Regions from separate parts of the Homo sapiens genome. Here all the other regions are linked to region 3. Evidence: fine-mapped expression QTL. A gene starts in region 3. Each other region holds a variant in brackets. All regions are shown on one strand. Distances are from middle to middle. Region 1 overlaps ZDHHC11B (zDHHC palmitoyltransferase 11B (putative)). Region 2 holds the start of ZDHHC11 (zDHHC palmitoyltransferase 11). Region 3 holds the start of TPPP (tubulin polymerization promoting protein).

Region 1 (8,000 bases), 74 kb after region 3:
GCCACATGGATAAGAACGAATACAGGATGTTAAGAAATGGCTATATAATTTTTAAGTGAGATATTTTTAAGTGAGATAAAGCATGGTGTTATAAAAATAAAAGTTTGTTAGACACAAACTGGAGCATTTACAGGTGAAATTTCCCGATGTCCGAGATTTTTAAAGGTTACTCGGATACACATGCATGTGAGATATAAAACAAGGTTAGCAAAAGCTTCACTGTTGAAGCAGGTGACTGGCACCTGCGGGTCCGCTTGACTGTACTCTCTACCTCTATAAACTGAAAGACGCCACAGGAACAAGTTTCAGGAAAGAGAGACATGGCCTTGCCCATGGCTGAGGCACTCAGGCTGGCAGGCTGCTGTCCTCATGGCACCTGCTCACTCTGCATCCAGCCCCTACACCTCCCTGCCTGCACCACAGCGATACACACCACGCTCACCATTTACCAGAGACTTGCCCGGGATGGCCCAGCCCAAGGACCACGCAGTGGTGTTGAGAGGTGACAGCACGCTGGCAGCCCTGGCAGCCCTCGCTCACTCTCGGCACCTCCTCGGCCTCGGTGCCCACTCTGGCCACACTCGAGGGGCCCTTCAGCCCACTGCTGCACTGTGGGAGTCCCTCTCTGGGCTGGCCGAGGCCAGAGCCGGCTCCCTCGGCTTGTGGGGAGGTATGAAGGGAGAGGCACAGGCGGGAACCCAGCACTAGTTCGGGGTGGGCATGGGCTCAGCGGGCCCTGCACTCAGAGCAGCCGGCCGGCACTGCCGGCCCCGGGCAGTGAGGGGCTTAGCACCTAGGCCAGCAGCTGTGGAGGGTGCGCCAGGTCCCCCAGGAGTGCTGGTCTGCTGTAGCTGTGCTCAATTCTCACTGGGCCTCAGCTGCCTCCCTGCGGGGCAGGGCTCAGGACCTGCAGCCCGCCATGCCTGAGCCTCCCCGCTGCCATGGGCTCCTGCGCAGCCCGAGCCTCCCCAGTGAGCACCGTCCCCTGCTCTGCGGCACCCGGTCCCATCCACCACCCAAGGGCTGAGGAGTGCGGGCACATGGCACGGGACTGGCAGGCAGCTCCACCTGCCCCCGGTGTGGGAGCCACTAGGTGAAGCCAGCTGGGCTCCTGAGTCTAGTGGGGACTTGGAGAACCTTTATGTCTAGCTAAGGGACTGTAAATACACCAATCAGCACCCTATGTCTAGCTCGAAGTTTGTAAATGCACCAATCAGCACTCTGTATCTAGCTAATCTGGTGGGGACTTGGAGAACCTTTATGTCTAGCTAAGGGACTGTAAATACACCAATCAGCACCCTATGTCTAGCTCGAAGTTTGTAAATGCACCAATCAGCACTCTGTATCTAGCTAATCTGGTGGGGACTTGGAGAACCTTTATGTCTAGCTAAGGGACTGTAAATACACCAATCAGCACCCTATGTCTAGCTCGAAGTTTGTAAATGCACCAATCAGCACTCTGTATCTAGCTAATCTGGTGGGGACTTGGAGAATCTTTATGTCTAGCTAAGGGATTGTAAATACACCAATCAGCACCCTATGTCTAGCTCGAGGTTTGTAAATGCACCAATCAGCACTCTGTATCTAGCTAATCTGGTGGGGACTTGGAGAATCTTTATGTCTAGCTAAGGGATTGTAAATACACCAATCAGCACTCTGTGTCTAGCTCAAGGTTTGTAAATGCACCAATCAGTGCTCTGTGGGGACTTGGAGAACTTTTGTGTCTAGCTTAGGGGTTGTAAACACACCAATCAGCACCCTGTCAAAACGGACCAATCAGCTCTCTGTAAAACAGACCAATCAGCTCTCTGTAAAATGAACCAATCAGCAGGATGTGGGTGGGGCCAGATAAGGGAATAAAAGCAGGCTGCTCAAGCCAGTAGCAGCAAACTGCTTGGGTTCTCTTCCACATTGTGGAAGTTTTGTTCTTTTGCTCTTTGCAATACATCTTGCTGCTGCTCACTCTTTGGCTCCGCACTGCCTTTATGAGCTCTAACACTCGCAGTGAAGGTCTGCAGCTTCATTCCTGAACCAGGGATACCCCAAACCACCAGAAGGAAGAAATTCTGAACACATCCAAACATCAGAAGGAACAAACTCCAGACACGCCGCCTTTAAGAACTGTAACACTCACCGCGAGGGTCTGCGGCTTCATTCTTGAAGTTGGTGAGACCAAGAACCCACCAGTTCCGGACACAGTGTCACCACTTCCCCACTGAGGAAGGCTCTAGTGAGAAATAACACATCCTACTTTCAGAAATATGGTTCCAGTGCCCCAAGGCACCGAACGCAGGCCAACTGTTCCCCAGGCCCCTTTGTCCCCACACATCCATGTCTCAGTGACCCTAGGGGGCCTGGGGTTTCTCAACTGAATGCCATGGTCAGCTGGAGGTAGTGCAGAGCCCACATGCCCCATGGACATGCACCCTGGGAGATGCGAGCAGACACAGGCTCCCACCCGCTGGAAGATGATGGGAGCAGACATGAGTCCCCGCCTGATGGGAGGTGAGAGCAGATGCAGGTCCCCTACCCACTGGGAGACAGGAGCAGACACGGGCTTCCCCCTCTTTGGGAGACGGGAGCAGACCCGGGACCCCTGCCGCTGGAAGATGGGAGCAGAACCAGGTCCCCCACCTGCTGGGAGATGGGAGCAGACGGCCTGACATGGGGTCAGCGGCTGCCCTGTCCAACCTGACCCTGAGCCATGTGGGAGCGGTCTGACATAGGGTCAGTGGCTGCTCTGTCCACCCGACGATGGGCCACGCAGGAATGGCCTGATGTGGGGTCAGCAGCTGTCCTGACCCTGAGCAGGGGCTGCACAGAGCACGAATGGCCACTGGGCCCACCTGCAGGCTCGGGGGACATAGTCTGGCCCAGGACAGGTGACTGGTGCCACCGGGCAGCCATGGCCCAGACCCCACAGCCAGGTCCATCGCAGGGTCCTCCAGGAACCCCTCCCGCTTAGACCATGCCACGATGAAAAGGATACCACATAGGCGATGTATTTCCACGAGTGAGGCAGGAGGGGAATGAAGATCCTGAAGGTGGCCAAGGAAAGGCCAACGAAGACAGCCCAAGTCACCACCCGGAAGTAGTGCAGGGGTAACGACCAGCCGTTCACTCTGGAGATGCGGGGCGGCAAGACCAGCTCTTCATTGTTGCGTATGGCTTCTGGGGTGACGGAACACTGGCTCCCGGAGCGGGTGTCCATCTGCAGGACACAGAAGGGGAGGACCTGCGCCATCAGCTCCGGGGAGGGC[C/T]GGCCCCACCCACTGTCAGGGAGACCACGGGGACTGGGAACATGGCCCCCAGGACCAGCACTGACAGCCAATGGCCCAGCATTGCCTGGGGCCACGTTCCCCGCAGAGGGAGCAGGGGTTGGGCTGGAGTCGGTGCAGGGCCCTGTCCAGGGGAATGAACAGACATGCTGCAGAATCTGACCCTGGCCAGAGCCGAGTGGCAACAGAAAATGGCTCTCCAGGGTGTGGAGGACCCTGGGCAGAGGACCTGGCCTGTGGCAGACCTGGGTGGATGACTGAAAGCAACGGGAAGACCTGAGCTGCCATCTGGACGGCTGCGGGATGGCCCTCTCCCCACCCACACACATGTGGGGCTCCGGGTCCCACACCAGGGCGCAGCTGAAGCTGGACAGCAGCCAAGGGCTCCCCGGGGCCAACACCTGCCTCGGCGCACACTGCACGCCTGTCTCATCTCCGTAGGCTGAGTAGAGCAGCTCCAACTCGTCCGACTTCAAGTCGCCAAATGCTGAATTATTCTGCATCGAAAGCGCAGTAGTGGCACTGGAGAGAAAGGTGACTGGGAGGAAGAGGAGAAAGAGAGCATCACTGGACTCACTGGAAGGACTCGGTGTGCAGGCCCCACCCCGCTTCTCCAGGGGCTGAGGGACCGCCTGGCTGGCAGCCAGCACCCCAGTCTCACCTCTCTTGCTCTCCACAAAATTCTCACTCCTGAGTTTTCCATGTGTAACCAGCAGGGGTGTAATTCACCACCCCTCATTTTACTTCTGCAGGCCAAAGACCGCAGGGAAATGAGCTCTCTGCAAAGGGGTGAGCTCCACAAGCAAAAGAGCTGTGTGGAAACGTGGGCAGAGCGCACCGTCTGTCACTGTGGAGGATCCCAACCAACACACACCGCAGGGACCACGCCTGCCCAGGGCCAGCTCTCGCTGTGGGGGACACAGGCCAGGTGTACTGTGCAGTGTCCCATAGGGTGTGGAGCAGCACCCCTGGCATCTCCCTACCATCTGGTGCCAGCAGCACCCCCAACCCCAGTGGGACCATCAACACGCCTCTGGACACTGCCAACATCTCCAGGGACAAAAGTGCTGTGGTTGAGAACTGTGTTAGAGGGTGAGAAGAAGATGTGTGTCAAACACAACAAAAAAAAAGTATCAACAACCACAACAGCCCCAAGAGGAAGAGGGGAGCAGGGGCTGGTGAAGACAAGTGGTGAAGGCAAGAGGATCCTTCCCAGTGGAGGGCGTCCTTCAACAGGAGACCCAGACCAGGCAGAATTTCAACACCTGGAGCTGGAGGAAAGAACATTCCAGAAACAAGGAAGCTCTTGAGCCAAGGCCATGGTTTGGAGGGAAGAGTGAGCTGTCCCATTAGCAGATGGTGTGAGTGGCTGAGGCAGAAAGGGCCGGCAGGAGCAGTGTCCATGCAGCTGTCTGCATGGGAGGGACCCAGCAGAGGTGGAGAAGTGGAGGGTGGGGCCATGCAGGAGGTCCCAGCAGCAGCGCAGCCAGGAGGCAGCAGTGCAGATGGAGAGAACACACAGGCCAGACCCAAGGCCCAGGGGCCACACATTCTGACCCCTGAAGGGATGTTCTGTAATGCGACAGGGACAGAAACACAAGGACCCCAAAACACTGACCAAGGTGAAGTCCAGTGATGCAACCAAGGTGCCCGCTGTGTGTGTCCCCATCCAACACGAGTTTCATTCCTGTCACTGTAACTGATCTCAATCTTACCCATGTGAAAACATGAATCCAGGTACAGTGAGGAAACTCTGAAGTACGAATCAGCAGCATTTGCCATCACTCCACTAAACCCCTGCCACCTTCCCTGCTCCGGCTGGCTCCTGGGACGGGACTATGGATTTACCTTTGTTTCTTCTCTCGTCTTTGAAGCCCAGCGTGGTGAAGCCTGGGAGTAGCTTACTGGAGAGCGAGCTCAAGTCCACCGGGTGGGTCTCCTCCTCTGCAACACGGACATGGCGGGCCGTGAGTGGCAGGTGTGACCCCAACGCGGTGCCCCAGTGCAGTGCCATGAGCCCTTTCTCCACATCACAGTGGATGTGATTGGTGCGGGTGGGGGGATTTTATAATGATCACCTGAAAACAAATTTGCAAAAGCCAACTACCATTCTCAAAACTAACTGCATTTCAATTTCATTTCTTTATCACCCCAAAGTCAACACAATAAAAAATACCACATCTTTGGCCACCACACCAGCAATACTTTGAGAACATTTTCAAATGGATCACTCAACAACTCCAAGAAGAAATCTTGTCCTGCGTGTTCTAACAGCGAAACGGTGGCGTGTACCTGGAGCGCGTGCATCTGACAGCATGTCTGCCATGCTCAAGTCACCACCCACACACCACTCATGGGATCAGAGCAGGAGTTCCTCAGTTCCCAACCGCTGCCTCGGTCTCAACACTCTCATAAGCTAAATATGGATCAACGGTCCATCCTCTTTAGGAAAATAAGCTGAAGATTATATAGATCAGCCCGTTTCTATCCTTCACACACTGGAGAAAACCACGCTGGCATGGTGGAGCTGGGTGAAAGACCACCAGCAGGCATGCGGGTGAGAGCGAGGGAAGCAGGAATCTAGAGGCAACCCGTGCCAGGCTGCACGTTCCTCACGCGAGCCCGCGAGTGCGTTTCAAACCCAAGTGATCACACTTTCGTTCAAAGGACAAGCCTCTTAATTACTTCCAGGCCAACAAAGTGCCCCTGACGGGCTGGACAGGCCTAGTGCGCGCCATCCTTCAACACTGTCCTGGACATAATCATCTAACAGCTCTTCTTTTTCTAAGACTGCTTTCCAGATTCAAGGAGCAGGGTGGGCCAGCACTCTGGTCTTTGCTGAAGACTGAGCTCGGGATGTGAACCCTTCCTGATGCTAGTGAGGTTTGGCCTTAAAGGCCTCTCGGCAGCTTTTCAGGAACGTGGCTCGAGTCCCGCTGCTCCCAAGGAGCCCTGACCGAGGTCTGACCAGCACCACAGCCCCGCGAGACGGCCGTCCACACCACTCGGTGCACATGTCCTCCAACTCCAGCGACAGCTTCTTGGCTGCCCAGTCCTTCGAGGGGTCCCCCGGGGACTTGGGGGGCGTCCTGTTGGCAGCTTTGGCAGGCTTGGCCTTGTCAGCCATGTTGCTATGGAGGAAGGAGAGGAGAAAGGTGTCACCCGGGCCATGTCCCAGCTGAGCCGGGTGCAGCCCAGGAAACCCCGCCATACCAATGAGCACCAGGACGTGGCGAGGGCTGAGATGGGCAGGCCCTCCTGGGGCTGGGCGTGAGGCCCCTCAGACCCTTGGAGCCAGCTGCCCCGCAGGCACGCATGTCCAGCCCCGGGCAGAGTGGAGCCAAGCGAGGCCTTGCCCACTGCCATCATTGGGCCAAGGACCCCCTAAGCCAAATAAAGCCAGCAGCACGCAGAGCCCAGGGTGGGAGCTGAGCTGGGTGCCAGGGGCTCCAGGCCTAGGAGGCTCAGTGTGTGACTGGCAGCATCAGAGCCTATTCCGGGTCCCCTCCCCGCCGCAGTTCCACTGTCCCTCCTGTGGACGCCCGCTCTGCAGCTCTGGAGGACACCTCGGGATCACGCACTCCCCAGGGTCTGTGACGTGCTGCCTTCCTCTGGGAAGGTCCACAGCAGTCGTGCGACAGCCGCTCCCTCCCCACTGCAGAGCCTCTGACCTTAGATGGAGCTTTAGGCTGGGGAGGGTGTGTGGTGGCCCTGGGGGTGCCTCAGGATGCTCTTCCCAGGAGCCCTGGGCCTGGCCCCAGCCAGGGGAGGGGACTGCCAGTGTGCAGGGCTGAGGCAGTGCTGGGGGCACCGGTGTCAGGGTGCAGGGATGCCCTCTGGACTTGGTAAGGCGCCCGCCCCCAGAGCAGGTGGCTGGGCTGTGGGGCTAAGATTGAGGGGTGCCACCCAGGCAGGGCTTGGGGACGCAGGGCTACGCCACAGGGCAGGGCTGCCGAGGCCACCTCCCTACCATGCATGGGCTTCGGTAAGACCCAGTCAGGCCCTGAAGGACTCAAGGCTGAGGTGCTGGACTCAGGGCATGAAAGCTGCTTCCCAAAGGGGCCTGGACACCAGGTGGGCCGTCAGCACTGCACTGAGAGCTGAACATGGCCTCTGCCCACAGACACAAGAGCCGGTGGGAGGGTCCGTGCCGAGGACACATGTGCGTGTCCCAACCCTGGGACTCACGAAGCCCTCTCAGATCTGGAGTTCTCAGCGCCAGTCATGGCCAAAGTGTGGCTCTGTCATCGTGGGGGTCCTGAGTGTGGCCCCTGCTGAACTTGAGATCCCACAAATTCCCCCAAAACAGCCGGAAAAAAATCCAGGGGCACTCCCTACACTGAAGACCTTAAGGGCCTCAGGCCCCACCCACTCACCCCTTTCCCTGGAAGACACCAAAAATGCAGATGCCAACCCAGCGGAGGATGCAGGGGCAGGATCCTGGTGGGGGCTGGGCCGCATGGGGGCAGGGTCTCATGGGGGCAGGACCGCGTGGGGGCAGGATCCTGGTGGGGGCAGGATCCTGGGGGTGGAAGGGCCGTCTGGGGGCAGGATCCTGGGGGTGGAAAGGCTGGGTCAGGTGTCGAGCCAGGAACCGTTTCCAGTTTTATCGCTGACAACATTTCTTTGAAACAGGAGCTTCTCACAGGCCTGGCCTGTGTTTCCCCTGGGCCTCTGCAGCAGGGGTCGCTGGACAGGAGGAGCAGCTGAGAAATTACCAGA
Region 2 (8,000 bases), 160 kb after region 3:
TGGCGGATGAAGGGACAGAAGCGAGGTTGGCACAGATGCCGGCGTTGGCTGCTGCCTGGAGCTGAGGGCGCCCATGACCCCGGCCCTGCTCTCCTGATGCCCCTTTCCCACACCCAGGCGGTGTCTACACTTGGCACCCACGTGGTCCCTCTCCAGCACCCCTCCTGAGGAAGGCAGACCCTCTCCTTGCCACCTGCCTGTGGGCCCTCACCCCCTCACCTTCCCCACCAGGACCCGCCAGATTGAGCCAGCTCGAGGCACCAGAGCAGAATGAGTCCAGAAGGAAGTGGCACCTGGGGCTAGCATGAGCCAGAGGAGCTGGCCCCACCTTGGCCATCGTGGAGCTGCTCTTCTCCAGGGGAGGAGGCCGGTGGGTCTCCCCGGCCCCTACCATCTCACGCAGCCTCTGGACTCGCTGTGCGGTCATGCAACCTCTCTGTCCCTGCCGGGCTGCTCAGCCTCTCTGGACACATGCTGTGCTCCAGACGGGATGGCAGGGAGGCAGGGCAGGGACCGCCCGGTGCGTCCTGTGACACCAGGCAACGTTGGTCCCCACTCCCACGCACACCAAGGCCTCTTTCAGGTCAGCACAGAGTAGCTGGGGAGCAGGCGTGGTTCTTTTCCCTGGTGATCTTCACAATACAGTGCTGCAGACAGCCGGGGCTCAGCACACGGGGCCTTGAGAGTCCCTGGATCCTCCACTGTGCTCAGGGGAAACACCTCTCATCTATGAGCCTCCACCGTGCTCAGGGGAAACAACCTCTCGTTCTTGAGCCTCCACCGTGCTCAGGGGAAACACGTCTCATCTGTGAGTCTCCACCGTGCTCAGGGGAAACACCTCTCGTTCTTGCACCTCCACCATCCTCAGTGGAAACACCTCTCATCCTTGCGCCTCCACCGTGCTCAGGGGAAATACCTCTCGCCTGTGAGCCTCCACCATGCTCAGGGGAAACACCTCTCGTCCTTGAGCCTCCACCATGCTCAGGGGAAACACCTCTCGTTCTTGAGCCTCCACCGTGCTCAGGGGAAACACCTCTCGTCTATGAGCCTCCACCGTGCTCAGGGGAAACACGTCTCATCTGTGAGCCTCCACCGTGCTCAGGGGAAACACCTCTCGTTCTTGCACCTCCACCATCCTCAGTGGAAACACCTCTCATCCTTGCGCCTCCACCGTGCTCAGGGGAAAGACCTCTCGCCTGTGAGCCTCCACCATGCTCAGTGGAAACACCTCTCATCTGTAAGCCTCCACCGTGCTCAGGGAAACATCTCTCTTCCTTGCATCTCCACCGTGCTCAGGGGAAACACCTCTCGTCTATGAGCCTCCACCGTGCTCAGGGAAACACCTCTCATCTGTGAGCCTCGACCATGCTCAGGGGAAACACCTCTCGCCCATCTGCGCTGGGTGCCCACTGCCCTTCCGTGGCCCCACCCTTGTGCTGGATGAGCCTCAGCCTGGGTGGAGAGAAGGCAGCCCAGCCCAGGACAGCGTGGTCAGGAGGCCTCAGCCAGCGTGGCCCCGCAAGTGCCCCCGGGGGGCCTCCAGGGACTTACTCTATGCGGATGAGCTTGTCCAGGGACGGCTGCACCACAGCCCCAGAGCCAGACAGGAGGCCGGGGCACGCAGGCACCAAGCGCCACCACATCAGGACAGGGACGCGGCCCCAAGAGGACCCTCCACCCTTTCAACACGATGACCCCTGCCCACAGACCCCTCCCTTCCAAATTCCCCCAAGCCTGGCCCGTGCCGGCCATCCCCTCTGTGCCCCTCACCAATAATTCCGGCTTCCCACGCAGTTGTTGATCCATTTGCAGTGGTGGTCGAAGCCGGACACACACTTATTGCAGGAAATGCAGTGTTTGGTTTTCTTGTTCCTGGAGGGATGAATCGGGGAACGCCTGTCAGGCCCCAAGTGCGCAGGTTGGGGCAGGGCCAGAGGTCCATCACTGGAAGCCAGGTGCCTCGGAGGAACCAGCCCTGTGCGGCCTGGGGAGAGGGCGTCCAGCAGGGAATGGGAGGCTGGGGGAGGGTGTTGAGGCCTGTGGGGAGGAGGAGAAGCAGGGCAGCTGTGGGCAGAGGTAGCCACAGAGCAGGAGGAGCTGTGTCTTTGGCCGCCCTGAGCATAGACCCCCCGCCAGCCGTCCTACACCAGCCTCACTCTGGGCCATGGCCCTGGAGGAGGCCGCGCCTGCCCCATGGTTCCAGGAGTTGAGGCCGGGGGCTTGGATCCCACCTGTGCCTACAGGGCCTCCCTTGCAGCTGACAACAGCCCTGTAGCCAACCCCTAGGCCATCACAGAGGCCTCCAGGGCCCCTGGAGACACTGGAACCCTTACCTCCCACTTTCCTAGGGGCTTGTCTTGAAACTCCCCAAGAAAGACAGTGCTCTCTTGCCCTGGGCCCTCAGGGGAGGGACCTCGTGCACAAAATCCACTGAGGACCAAACATGCCTGAGTGCTGCTGTGTTTCATTCCAGGGGAGCAGCGGGTCACCTGCAGGTGACAGACCCAGCCCTCCAGTCTCAGCCCTGCCTGCGGAGGAGTTGGGGCGGCCCGGCACCGCGCCCGGTTCACAGCGAGATGAGGGGCGATCCACCCGCAGCCACAGGGCCGGGCCCTGGAAGCTCCACTAGCATCAGCTGCGGCCATGGCACGGGCCCTGAGGGGCCAGCAGTGACCTGAGCACCAGGACCCTGGAGGTGACCCTGACACCTTGGGGCCTCGGCGAGGGCGGGCACTCACACGGTGACCTTGCACAGGTGGCAGAACTGATTCTGGATCACGTGTGCATGTTTTGATCTGTCGAAGAGGGGCATGGGCTGAGAATAGTTCTTCATGAGTCTGACATTGGAGTCGGCCGGGTCGATGCAGGACGCGATCAGGTGGACGACGAGGTGGAACGAGAAGATCCCCCCGGTCACCTGGCATGTCAAGGAAGAACCTGGCCCAGGGCCTGGTCAGCCTGGCACGAGGCGTCCCCGTGAGGCCCAAGGGCCCAGAAGAGGCGTGGCCGCTGGTCAGCCCTGCTCACCCAGCCCTGCACACGTGAGCCCAGCTCACCCAGGCCTGGCCCTGCTCACACAGCCCTGCACACCCAGCCCTGCACAACTGAGCCCTGTTCGCCTGGCCCTGCTCACCTGGGCGTGCTCACCTGGGCCTGCACACCCAGCCCTGCACAGCCAGCCCTGCACAGCCAGCCCTGCACACCCAGCCCTGCTCACCCGAGCCCAGCTCACCCATGCCCGGCCCTGCTCACATGGCCCTGCTCATCCAGTCTTGCACACACGGCCCTATACACCCGGCCCTTCACACATGGCCCTGCACACACAGCCCTGCTCACCCAGATCTAGAGGAGATGAGTCCACCCGTCGGCCCTGCACACACAGCCCTGCTTACCCAGGCCTAGAGAAGATGAGGCTACCCATTGGCCCTGCATACACAGCCCTGTGCCAGTCGGGGACCGGGAAGGCTGCCCCCGTGCCCCTTTTGGTTCATCCCTGTTGGACACAGGGCAAATCCCCCACAGAATGTACCGCACCCCCAGAGGCTCAGTCAGCCCAGCCAAGCACAGTGACCCCAAAACCCTTTACAGCTTGAGGGACAGAGCAGGGCCACAGGAGGGACATCCCAGGTATAAACACAGCCGGATGCAGCCCCAAAGGCCCTGGAGGAGCCTGGGTTCTTTCATACCAGAGACCCCTGAGCACTGGGAGAGAAGACAGCCTCAGACAGGAGGAGCAGGGGGAGGAG[C/G]GAGGGAGCTGCACAACCTACCCGCTCCCTGTAGACCCCAGACAGCTCACTCAGGGACCCTCTCCCCGAGAATAGCTCAGGGAAACCCCCCTCAGACTCCCTCAGGGCCCCTCCGGACTCTCTCGGGGACTCCAGACTCTCTCGAGGACCCCAGACTCACTCAGGGACCCTGGGCCTCTTTCTTGGGCCCTCTGGGCTCAGAGCCTGGCTGCGGGGGCACTGGGGAGAGGATCCTTGTCCCCTGGAGCCAGGAGAAGCTGGGCTCCCCGTGCCTGGGACGTCAGCTCCCGCCCTCAGATCCTGGCTCCCTCCTCCTCTCACCCTGGGACAAACACAGACTCTCCATGGCAACCAAATAGAAGGGGTGGAGTGCGGGGCCCTCCAGTCACCCTGCCTGGCCCCTGGACCGCCTTCTAGCCAGGAGTTCAGGGTTGACAGCCATCTCCGCAGGGCAGCCCAGAGGCCCTCGCAGTGTGGCCTAAGCTTGGCATGGAAACGCAGGCTGCCGACCTGCGGGGCATGGCGCTGTTCCTCCTTGGCACCAGGGGCAAGGAGAAAGGTGCTGGCCATGTGCAAAATGCTGCGCAGGGATTTTAGCGGAAGGCTGCCAGCAGGGCGGGTCCTGCGCCACGCCAGGGGGCTGCTGTCCCTCCTGACAGATTCCCTCTCCGGAGCCCCCTCAGCCAACGCTGTCCTGTCCTGACCCTAAGCAGGGGCTGCACAGAGCATGAGTGGCCACTGGGCCCACCTGCAGGCTCAGGGGACATAGTCTGGCCCAGGGCAGGTGACTGGTGCCACCGGGCAGCCATGGCCCAGACCCCACAGCCAGGTCCATCGCAAGTTCCTCCAGGAACCCCTCCCGCTTAGACCATGCCACGATGAAAAGGATACCACGTAGGCAATGTATTTCCACGCGTGAGGCAGGAAGGGAATGAAGATCCCGAAGGTGGCCGAGGAAAGGCCCACGAAGACAGCCCAGGTCACCACCTGGAAGTAGTGCAGGGGTAACGACCAGCCGTTCACTCTGGAGATGCGGGGCGGCAAGACCAGCTTTTCATTATTGAGTATGGCTTCTGGGGTGACGGAACACTGGCTCCCGGAGCGGGTGTCCATCTGCAGGACACAGAAGGGGAGGACCTGCGCCGTCAGATCCTGGGAGGGCCGGCCCCGCCCACTGTCACAGAGACCAAGGGGACTGGGAATGCAGCCGCCAGGACCAGCACTGACAGCCAATGGCCCAGCACTGCCTGGGGCCACGTTCCCCGCAGAGGGAGCAGGGGCTGGGCTGGAGTCGGTGCAGGGCCCCGCCCAGGGGAATGAACAGACATGCTGCAGAATGTGACCCCGGCCAGAGCCGAGTGGCAACGGAAAACGGCTCTCCAGGGTGTGGAGGACCCAGTGCCCGCGCGACCGCCCATCAGTTCCCCTGAGGATTTGTTACGTTCTGGGGAGTGCTCGACAGCCCCCACACAGCGACAGGTCCCACAACCCGTTCACGAATACACAGGCCCACCCAGGACTCCCCAGGTGCAAGAAGAAAACCCACGTCAGAAAGAGGCCACACTGAGCAGAGGGCTGCGCCTGTGAGAAACTGAGGCAATGCCTGAAGAGCTCGTGAGCCGTTACTCACTGGTGCAACACTGAAACCTGCCAGATCCTCCCTGAGAGGCTTCTCTGAGCTTCCCAGAGGAGCAGGACCCGAGAGCTCACTTCACAGGGTCCTGTGTGTCTCCCCTTCCACAGGACAGGGAAGCCCGTCCAGCCACGCGGGGCTGGGGTCTCCGCCCGGGTGGACAGTGGCTGGGAGGTTCTGAACACGCTGCGGCTGCTCCTGGCCAGTCAGGTGGGGAGGGCGGCAGGGGTGGGAGGGACGTGGTGTCACAGAGCGGCAGTGAAAGACACTCAACGGCCGCTACGGGGTGGGGGGTTGATCTTGAGGGGCTGGGCGGTCTCTACAGAGGAGGGTTAGGAAGCTTCGCCACGTTATGCCTCGCTCAAAGTCCTTGTTGTCTCTTTGGGAAAAAACCTTCAGAAAATGAAGTTGATATTAAATGTATTTCTTTGAGAAGAGAGACATTGAGAAATAGTTAACAATTCTTCGTTCTTGCAGTCGTGAACGTCCATGATACAGTGGCTCTGCGCTGCCTTTGGTGGCTCCTCCCTGGTCCTCTAAATGTGACACCAGGCGGATGCGGGGCCACAGGACCCTGGGGCTTGAGTCACACAAGAATGTCTCTGGGAGACCCGAGAGACTCACAGTTATGAAACAGGACCATGGTTCTTTGGCCGGGCGCGGGGGCTCACGCCTGTAATCCCAGCACTGTGGGAAGCCGAGGCGTGCCTATCACCTGAGGTCAGGAGTTCCAGACCAGCCTGGGCAACACGGCGAAACCCTGTCTCTACTAAAAATACAAAGATTAGCAGGGCATGGTGGCACATGCCTCTAATCCCAGCTACTCGGGAGGCTGAGGCATGAGAATCGTTTGAACCTGGGAGGTCGAGGCTGCAGTGAGCCAAGATTGCACCACTGCATTCCAGCCTGGGCAACAGAGGGAGACTCCATCTCAAAAAAAAAAAAAAGAAAGAAAGAAAAGTCAAAGTTACCAAGGAAGGAAATAGAAACACAGAAAGACAACCCTGTACATTAAAAACACAATTCCCAGTTAAAAACAAAACCCAAATGAAAGTGCCAACAAACAGAAATGATGTCGCCAAGTCACATTGGTAAAACCTGGAATATCAAATCCAGGAAGGACCACAGATCTTAGAGAGGAGAAGAGGGGAATCGCTCAGCGGCCTTGAGCCTTGAGCCTGGAGACAACACGTTCATCTGTCAGGATTTCAGAACAGAAAGGTGGAGAGTCTGTGAGAGAAAAAAGAAAACACTGAAGAACTTTGAGAAGACTGAAGACTTCAGGTCGAAACTGTGCACCAAGAGCTGGAAAGGATGATTGGAAAAAGTAATACATCCAAATTAGAGAAAATGTGAGCAAGCCAGGGAGACAGACCCCACAGAGGACAACGAGCAGCGGGGACAGACTCCACAGAGGACAGTGAGCCAGGGGGACAGACCCCACGGAGGACAATGAGCAGCGGGGACAGACGCCACGGAGGACAGTAAGCTGGAGGTACAGACTCCACAGAGGACAGTGAGCAAGGGGGACAGACCCCACGGAGGACAGCGAGCCGGGGGGACAGACCACACGGAGGACAGCGAGCAGCGGGGACAGACCCCACAGAGGACAGCAAACCGGGGGACAGACCCCATGGAGGACAGCGAGCCGGGGGAAGAGACCCCACGGAGGACAGCAAGCAGCGGGGACAGACCCCACGGAGGACAGCGAGCCGGGGGTACAGACCACACGGAGGACAGCGAGCAGCGGGGACAGACCCCACGGAGGACAGTGAGCAGCGGGGACAGACCCCGCGGAGGACAGCGAGCCGAGGGGACAGACCCCACGCAGGACAGCAAGCAGCAGGGAAAGACCCCACGGAGGACAGCGAGCCAGGGGGACAGACCCCATGGAGGACAGCGAGCAGCGGGCACAGACCCCACGGAGGACAGCGAGCCAGGTGGACAGACCCCATGGAGGACAGCGAGCCAGGGGACACAGGCCCCACGGAGGACAATTAGCAGCGGGGACAGACCCCACGGAGGACAGCGAGCCAGGGAGACAGACCCCACAGAGGACAGCGAGCCAGGGGGCAGAGACTCCACAGAGGACAGCGAGCCGGGGGGCACGGACCCCACGGAGGACAGTGAGCAGCGGGCACAGACCCCACAGAGGACAGTGAGCAGCAGGGATAGACCCCACCGAGGACAGCGAGTCGGGCACAGACCCCGCAGAGGACAGCGAGTCGGGGGTACAGACCCCACGGAGGACAGCGAGCCAGGGGGACAGACCCCACAGAGGACAGTGAGCAGCGGGGACAGACCCCACAGAGGACAGTGAGCCAGGGGGCACAGACCCCACAGAGGACAGCGAGCGAGGAGCACAGACCCCACAGAGGACAGCGAGCTGGGGAGACAGATCCCACAGAGGACAGTGAGCAGCGGGGACAGACCCCACAGAGGACAGCAAGCCCGGGGGACAGACCCCACAGTGGACAGCAAGCCACGGGGACAGACCCCACAGAGGACAGCAAGCCAGGGGGACAGACCCCACAGAGGACAGCGAGCCACGGGGACAGACCCCATGTAGGACAGTGAGCCAGGGAGACAGACCCCACAGAGGACAGTGAGCTGGGGAGACA
Region 3 (8,000 bases):
GGGGGATCATCTGGGTGGAGGATCATCTGGGTGGGGGATCAACTGGGTGGGGGCTGCCCTGGGTGGGGGCTGCCCTGGGTGGAAGATCTTATCAGGGGGATGCAGTGGGTTATGGCCCTGTGGCAACCCCAAACACACACACACCAAGAAGAAGCTGGTCTCCCTAGGAGGAGGATCCACGCAGGGCAGCTTGGGGTTTGGCTCGTGGATGCTGGGGACAAGGCCTGAGCCCCAGATGTGGCTGGGCCTGACCCAGGCAGCTCCACCCCTTCCTTCCCAGGAAACACCTTTTGCTCGAGCAGTAGGAACTAGGCGTGTGTAGATTCTGCTGCCTGATCCTGGCTCCTGGCTGAGGGTTTGTGGGCTCAGATGGACTAGACACCCGGCCACAACCCTCCTGGGCATAGCCTTCTGGCTCCCCCAGCCCAGGCGGAGGCATTGAGCGACTCTCCTCACCCAGAGTGTTTTCCCGAAGGCGCTTCTGCCTGAGGGCACCAGGCTGGGCCAGGTACTGCAGGGCGCTGACCAGCACTGGCCTGGGGGCCCCAAGAGCCCCAGATGGCATCCCTCTCACACACTCCCCCTGTCTCACCAACAGCTATAAATAGACTCGGCTCTCTGCTGGCACGGCCTCTCCCGAGGAAGCTTTTAATTCTCTGCGTCCTCTGCAGGGGGTGGCTCCCACAGGCCTGGGAGGGAACAGACTGCCTGACTCTCCAGAGAGCTCCCCAGTCTCCATCTGCGATGGGTGATCCTAATTTTCTTCAGGAAGTTCTCCTGAGCCCTGCGTGTGGCGCTTTGGCCTTTGTGCCCACGGAAGCCCCCTGCGGCCCCTCCCTCCGGGCCCTGCCCAGCCCGGTGCACGAACCCTGTTTACCGATTCCCAGGCCTAGGGCAGCCACTGCCAGTGTGAGGCTTGCAAATTAGGGTAGGGGGTCAAAAGGAAGCCCCTGTTGACCATTTCTGTGAGCATTCTATGCTCATTTCCACAACGAGCATTTATAACCTCGTATAATCGCTAAAACATTTATTGCAACTTCAGGGAATTCGGGAAGATAGACCAACCGCAGCTGTAAGATTAAAACGCAGCCAGTGACCAGCGGAGCTTCCTCCACGCACACGCGGTCCAATCCCCATGACTTCATGTTTTGTGAAGATGCAAAGCGAGTTCATGCCGGCGCCTTTCTGAATCAGAGATCCGTTTAGAAACCATGAAAGCTGCAGACCCCTCCCGGGAAAACGCACACACCCTCCTGGAGCTCGCCTTCTGCAGCCGCTCCGGGAGCCCGCCCCTCCCCCACAGGCCCTCCGAGGATCACGTGGTGGGGAGGCGCTGGCACCGAGCGGCTGACAGGCGCGAGAGCCCAGTTCAAGGCGGCGGCATCAGGCTGCAGCTGCCTCACTCCCCTCCACTTCCTGCCCCTTCCCGGCCTTGGTCCAGCCCCATCTCCTAGTCCCAGGCCACAGGGAGCTGGGTCACCTCCCAGGGGCAGGGGCTGGCTGGGCGTGGGGGGAGACCTCTCCCCCTGAGAAGTCAGGCGGGGAGGGGTGGCCGGGGTGGGCGGAGGGGCCCAGTCCTCTATCGGTCCCCCAGGGGCCCTGCAAGCAGAAGAGCCAATAAACATGCCAGGTGGATCAGCGGTGACACTGAGAGGGAACGCAACACCCCATCAAAACAGCAGCCCCCCAACCCCCATCAAAACAATAGCCCCCAACCCCCATCAAAACAGCAGCCCCCAAACCCCATCAAAACAGCAGCCCCCAACCCCCATCAAAACAGCAGCCCCCAAATACCCATCAAAACAGCAGCCCCCCAAACCCCATCAAAACAATAGCCCCCAACCCCCATCAAAACAGCAGCCCCCAACCCCCATCAAAACAGCAGCCCCCAAATACCCATCAAAACAGCCCCCAACCCTCATCAAAACAGCAGCCCTCAACCCCCATCAAAACAGCAGCCCTCAACCCCCATCAAAACAGCAGCCCCCTAAACCCCCATCAAAACAGCAGCCCCCCAAACCCCCATCAAGACAACAGCCCCCCCAACCCGTATCAAAACAGCAGCCCCCAACCCCTCATCAAAACAGCAGCCCCCAGACCCCATCAAAACAGCAGCCCCCCAACCCCTATCAAAACAGCAGCCTCCCAACCCCTATCAAAACAGCAGCCCCCAACCCCCTATCAAAACAGCAGCCCCCCTAAGCCCCCATCAAGACAGCAGCCTCCCAACCCCACATCAAAACAGCAGCCCCCCAGACCCCATCAAAACAGCAGCCCCCAACCACCTATCAAAACAGCAGCCCCCAACCCCTATCAAAACAGCAGCCCCCCAACCCCCTATCAAAACAGTAGCCTCCCAACCACCTATCAAAACAGCAGCCTCCCAACCCCCTATCAAAACAGCAGCCCCCAAACCCCTATCAAAACTGCAGCTCCCAACCCCCTATCAAAACAGCAGTCCCCCAACCCTATCAAAACAGCAGCCCTCCAACCCCCTATCAAAACAGCAGCCCCCCAAACCCCTATCAAAACAGCAGCCCCCAACCCCGTATCAAAATAGCAGCCTCCCAACCCCTATCAAAACAGCAGCCCCCCAAACCCCCATCAAGACAACAGCCCCCCCAAAACCCTTATCAAAACAGCAGCCCCGCCACTGCCCGGGAGGGACAGGCTTCTCACCTCCCTCGGCTCCGTTTACGTAACCGAAACCGCAGAATAAAGGGCTCCTCAGATCTTCGGGCGCTGCTCCCAGGGGTGCGGGAAGGTGTCCCGGCAGCGCCTCTCCATCGCCACAGGCCCGCGGACAGTAGCCAAGACCCGGGGCAGCTGGAGGCTCTGCGGGGGGCGGTCTGACAGCCCCACCTGCCAGGACGCGGTGGTGTCAGGACCCTGAGATGGGCCGTTTCTGTGGCCAGGGATCTCTCAAAACCTGCTGCGGGCAGTGACTTCATTCCAGCCCTCCACGCCCTAATTTCCCACGCCTCACACCGGCGGCCCCCTAGGCCTGGGAATAGGGAAACGGTTCGAGTCCCGAGCTGGGGAGGGTCTGGAGGGAAGGGCTGCAGGGGCGTCCGTGGCCGCGAAGAAAGGCCAAAGCGCCAGGCACAGGGCCCGGAGACGGTGACAGACCTGTCCCTGGCGCGGCCGACGGTGACCCCCGCTCGCGGCCTTTGCAAAGCCTCCCCGTCGCGTCCTCGCACCGAGCCCGCAGCGCCGAACTCCGGGCATCCCAATCCGGGGGCTCAGGGACGCGCGGGGCGGTCCGGGAAGGGGGCTCGGGGGAGCGCGGGGGGCAGGGGCTGCGGCGCAGGTGGCTGCTGGGGCTGACGGGCCCAGTCTCCGCCCCCGGGTGCCCCCCGCGCCGCGCCCGCGGGACCGAGCCCCGCGCCCGCTTACCTTGGAGACGCAGCGACTGCAGCGGAGGCGCCTCCGCGACTCGGCCGCGCGCGACCCGGTGCTCAGCGGAGCTCTCCAGCCGCCGCCCCGCGCCCGCCCGTCCCGCCCAGCACCGCCCAGCCCCGCCCAGCCCGGTCCCGGGCCCGCCCCCGGCCCCCAGCGTCCGGCGCCCGCCCAGCGTCCCGCCCCGCGCGCTCATTGGCAGCCCCGCCCCCGCCGCCCCACCCGGCCCGGGGACGCGCGGGCGCACCGAGACCTCTGCCTTACAAGGCCGACTCTGCTCAGGCCCCGCGGACCGCCGGGTATCCGCTCAGCGCAGGGCGCGGCCGACCCGCGGGTCGTGGGAACCGCTGGGCAGGGGGCGGCGGGGCCCCTCACCTGGCTCTGGGGCCCCCCGGGGACGACCGGACCCCGATCTCTCCGCCCCGCAGGACGCGCGTTGACGGTGCGGCGGGGGATGGATGAGCGCGGCCGCGGCCTCCTGGGGTGGGGTGGGTTGGCGGCGGGGCCTCGAGGACGGTGCGGGGCGAGCCCCGACCGCGCCCAGTTCTTTAAGGAGCCGCAGACGGTGCAGGGAAGCGGCAGGGCCGGGCTGTGAGGGTGCTCGGACCCCAAGGCGGGGCGCACCCAGGGGACTGGGCTTCCAGGTGGGGGCAGCGCGGCCGGGGATCGACCTGAGCAGGGAGACGGGTCCGTGCCGGGCGCCCAGCGCAGCTGCTCGGGAGTGGGCCGCCCTTCACGCAGGAGTGGAGGAGCGGAGCGCGCACCCCTGACCCCGGCCTCAGCTTCCGTTCTCCCTGCAGGTCGCCCGTATGCAGCGCCACCATCCCGGCCGCTCTTCCAATCTCGCCTTTCTCCGGGCACCTGCCGCCCCTCCCCCGCTCCCCAGACAGGCTTTGCGGAGGGGGCTCATTCCGCCCGGGGCTGCCCGGCCCTCCGCAGGAGTTGGCTCCCCACAAGGTTCCGGGGCCGAGATGACAGGGCGGTTCTGTGGTGCTGGGTGCTGGGACTTGAGGGGCATAGGGGCACCTGCCCTGGAGGAGGCCGAGGCGCAGCCCCCCAGGAGGAAGGGGTGCCTCTGGTGACTTTCAGCTGGACTCTTCCAGCTGGACTCTAGTGCAGCTGAGCTCCTCCCCCAGCCCCGGCTCTGTCCCTGCACCAGGTGTCCAGCAGGCCCTGGAATCCGCAAAGGCAGAAGGGGAAGTTGGGGTGCTGGGTGCTGGGCAGGGGGTGCTGAGGCCTCACAGCCCGGCGGCTTGGCCCCCACCCACCCCACGGTGGTCCCGCGCCCCACACTTCCTCTCCTCTCCTGTGGTTTCTCCTTCCACTCAGTGCTGCCCAGAGATGGGCTTCTGTCTAGTTCTCCTGAGAAATTCCACACTCGCAGCTGGGAAGTCGGGGGACCCCCGAAGCTGTGCGGCGGCCACGCTGCGGCTCCTGCTTCCCTCCTGCTCGGGTGCGGGCTCGGCTGCCTTCTCGTCCCGCGGAGCCCGGAGTGCCTCCCCCTCGGGTAGATCCTACTAACAGCATCAAAGAAATAATGAAATAATCTCTCCTTGGTGTGTTCTTACCGTCCTAATAGGCACAAGGGGACTCTTCAGTGCATTTTCCAAAACCTGTACAAACTCTCTTGACATAAATGCAGTGAGTTTACAATAAAATCGCAGTGGGAGGTAACGTCAGGCTTCAGAGGCAGACATGGTCCTGGAGCCTTTGGGAGGAGAGGAGAGGAGAGGCAGCGGGCGCGGGGCGGCGTCCAGGGGGCTGAGCGAGGTCTGGGCAGGAGGACAGAGCTGAGCCTTGGGCTGCCCTGGCCCCTGCGCAGGACACACAGTGACCGGGGCTGGGGTGGGCACCCCGGTTCTACCGTCGGGAGTCGGCGTGTTCATGGAGTCTGTTTCCTTGTCTGTGGGTGAAACTTTGGCTTGGGGTCACGGGTGTGTTATTTCCCAGCGACAGTCGGTTCAGTCAGCACTTACAAAATCACCAGAAACAGGGGCACAGGATCTTGCTCAGCAGGGAGAGGTGGATCCTGATTCGGGACTCCAGGCTCTTCACCTGGCCATGGCTGCCCGTCCGGTGGCCCTTCCTGGCCCCCAGCTCTTGCTCCACTGCCAGACCTGGACAGCCTCCATTAACCCTGCAATTACTGAAAACCGACTCACAGCCAATGATGTGATCCACGCCAAGTGTCCCGTTATAAGATGTTTCCTGGGGATCCTTAGAAAATCACTACAAATGGGTTGAACAACAGGGCTTTCCTCTTACGGCTTAGGAGGCCAGAAGTCCGAGATCAAGGCCTGTGCGCTCCGGAGGTTCCCACCTCTTCCAGCTTCTGTGGCTCCAGGCGGTCCTGGGTGGTGGCCGCATGGCTCCACCTCTGCCCCTGTCCTCACGGGGCCTCCTCCCCCGAGTTAGTGTGTCTGTCTCTTCCTTTGCTTATCGGGACACCTGTCACTGGATTTAAGGGCCGCCAGGAGAAGCTGGGATAATCTCAAGATCTTTAATCGAATTACATCTACAAAGATCCTATTTTAACGTAAGGTCTTACTCTGAGGTTCCGGGTCAATGTGACTTTCTTGGGTGGGGGTCACTACCACCCCAGCACCAATGCTTTTCCCAGCTCCACCTGTGTTACCGTGTCAGTGACCAGGAGCGTTCCCCGGGACACCTGCCTGCTTGTAGCTGTTTCCACGGCTTCCTGCACAGGTTCTGCGTCCGCAGTTGGGAGCACCAGGCCAGGCAGCTGTCACATAGGAGGAGGACAGCTCTCCGGGACAAGCCCCTGCTGCCTGGCACCCGCGCCCACCCCTGCCTGGGTTTGGGGTTGGGTTTTGTGGGTAGAGGTTCAGGCTGACAGTGGAGGTTGGGAAGAGCAGACACAGCATGGTGGGTAGCACTGGAAGCCCTGGGTGGAAGGGATGGTGGGAGATGCTGGGCCATCTGGGTCTGCAGTGGGAGACCAGGACAGGAGCCCAGGTCCATTGGGAGGCCCCATGCTGAAGACAGAGGCACGGGGAGCGGGGGGAGCAATGGACTCACGCGGACAGCAGCAGACATGAAAAGGCCTCCGAGGCCAAGTGTGAGGATGCCGGGTCCCAGCACTGAGGTGTCCTGCAGCTGGACCTGTCAGGTGTCCACCCACCCCTGGCAGCTGAATGTCCTTTGACGGCCTATAGGCTGAGCAGCTTCTTTGGGCCCCGTAGGGGTGTGTCCCACAGCAGGTGAGCAGTCAGGGCCCCTTGAGAACCCTAACCAGCTCCTGTGTGGGCCCTGGGCTGGGGACAAGCTACAGCCTAGGTGCATGAGGTCAGAGGGGGTGGTCAGTGAAGTAACGACGTGCCTGCCTGGGTGTGGGGCCTGGGAAGCCTCATGGGGGTGTTGAAGCAGCTCCCATGGGTCCTTGGCAGCTTAGGGAAAATGTCTGCCGGGATGTGTGTGTGCACCTGTGTGTGAGAGTGTGAGAGTGTGCACATGCATGCGTGTGTTTGTGCATTCCTATGTGTGAATGTGCACCTGTATGTGTGAGTATGCATGCCGGTGTATGTATGTTGGTATGTGTTCAGCTGTGTATGTTCAGCTGTGTGTGTGTCTATTTGTGTGTCTCTGTGTGTATGAGTGTGTCTGCGTGTGCCTGTGTCTCTGTGTGTGCATGTGTGTTTGCACCTGTATGTCCACGTGCCTGTGTCTGTGTGTTTGCATGTGTGTGCATGTGTCTGTGTGCCTGCGTGTGCCTGTGTGTGCATGGGCCTGTGTGTCTTTGTGTGCATGTGTGTGTGTTTGCACCTGTGTGTGTGCACGTGCCTGTGTGTGTTTGGGCTGTGATTGCATCTGGTTATTCTGGGGGTGGAATTGCTGTGGAACATGGAATTAAAGTGCAGGTTCCGGGTCTTGCTGCCAGGGAGCGACTCTGGCCCCCCTATCACACACCTGTGACCCAGAGAACGGCAGGTGAGCCTTGCGGCTTCACTGTTGCCACAGGTCAGGGGCTGATGAGGAGGGGAAGCCAAATGGGGGGTGTTCAGCCCTAGGCTGAGCTGCTTGGAGCACATTCTTAATACGCCAGCCATCGCTACCTCAGTTCCACAGCCGATGTTAGGGAAGAAAGATGCGGGGACACGGCAACAGGACAGCGTGCTGGGAAGAAAAGATGTGGACAGGAGCCCATGCCTGGCAGAGACACGGAGGACCAGAGAGAGGATGGCGTTGCAGAGCGGAGGGCCGCAGAGAAGGGAGGAACTTGTGTCTGCAGTGGAGAGGACACACCCCTCTGGCAAGGGCAGCCCTGGGTGTGGCTTTCAGAGGCAGTGGGCAATGAGCTCTGTAAAGCCGAGATGGCTCCAAGCAGACCACAAGGAGCCTGGTCAGCTTCTGTCCCTGTAACTGTTTTCCCCACTGCCAGAAGTGGCTTCACTTGTTGTGTGGATGCCCTGCACTCAGCCCAGGACTAGATGGATTCACAGCCAGATTCTACCAAACATATGAAGAACTAATACCAATCCTTCTGAAACTATTCCAAGAAATCGAAGAGGGGGGATATCTCTCTAACTCATTCTATGAGGCCAGTATCACCCTCGGACCAAAACCAGACAAAGGCGCAACAA

Evidence for each region. PIP is the estimated chance that this variant, and not a neighbour inherited with it, causes the effect.
Region 1: its variant is the best candidate, but not a certain one, in a credible set for the expression of TPPP in sun-exposed skin (GTEx, PIP 0.77).
Region 2: its variant is the best candidate, but not a certain one, in a credible set for the expression of TPPP in whole blood (TOPMed, PIP 0.51).

Annotation. Positions count from the first base shown.
Region 1 is chr5:763,709-771,708 of GRCh38, forward strand. It overlaps ZDHHC11B (zDHHC palmitoyltransferase 11B (putative)), which reads right to left. Exons shown (of 14, transcript NM_001351303.2): 2 at 5,127-5,222; 3 at 3,684-3,816; 4 at 2,990-3,211. The coding sequence starts at 3,211. It also overlaps the pseudogene BRD9P2. Among named protein-coding and RNA genes, the nearest start is that of ZDHHC11B, 17 kb to the right of the region's middle. The variant C/T (reference allele first, on the strand shown) is at 3,261.
Region 2 is chr5:845,744-853,743 of GRCh38, forward strand. ZDHHC11 (zDHHC palmitoyltransferase 11) reads right to left here and starts at 5,243. Exons shown (of 13, transcript NM_024786.3): 1 at 4,638-5,243; 2 at 2,739-2,917; 3 at 1,771-1,872. The coding sequence starts at 4,859. RefSeq lists enhancers at 885-1,034, 3,935-4,586, 4,587-5,236. The variant C/G (reference allele first, on the strand shown) is at 3,747.
Region 3 is chr5:689,882-697,881 of GRCh38, forward strand. TPPP (tubulin polymerization promoting protein) reads right to left here and starts at 3,471. Exons shown (of 4, transcript NM_007030.3): 1 at 3,397-3,471. It overlaps LOC101929898 (a long non-coding RNA gene), which reads left to right and starts at 3,659. Exons shown (of 2, transcript XR_925675.4): 1 at 3,659-3,841; 2 at 4,200-8,000. RefSeq lists enhancers at 2,897-3,479, 4,393-5,271 and a silencer at 3,474-3,723.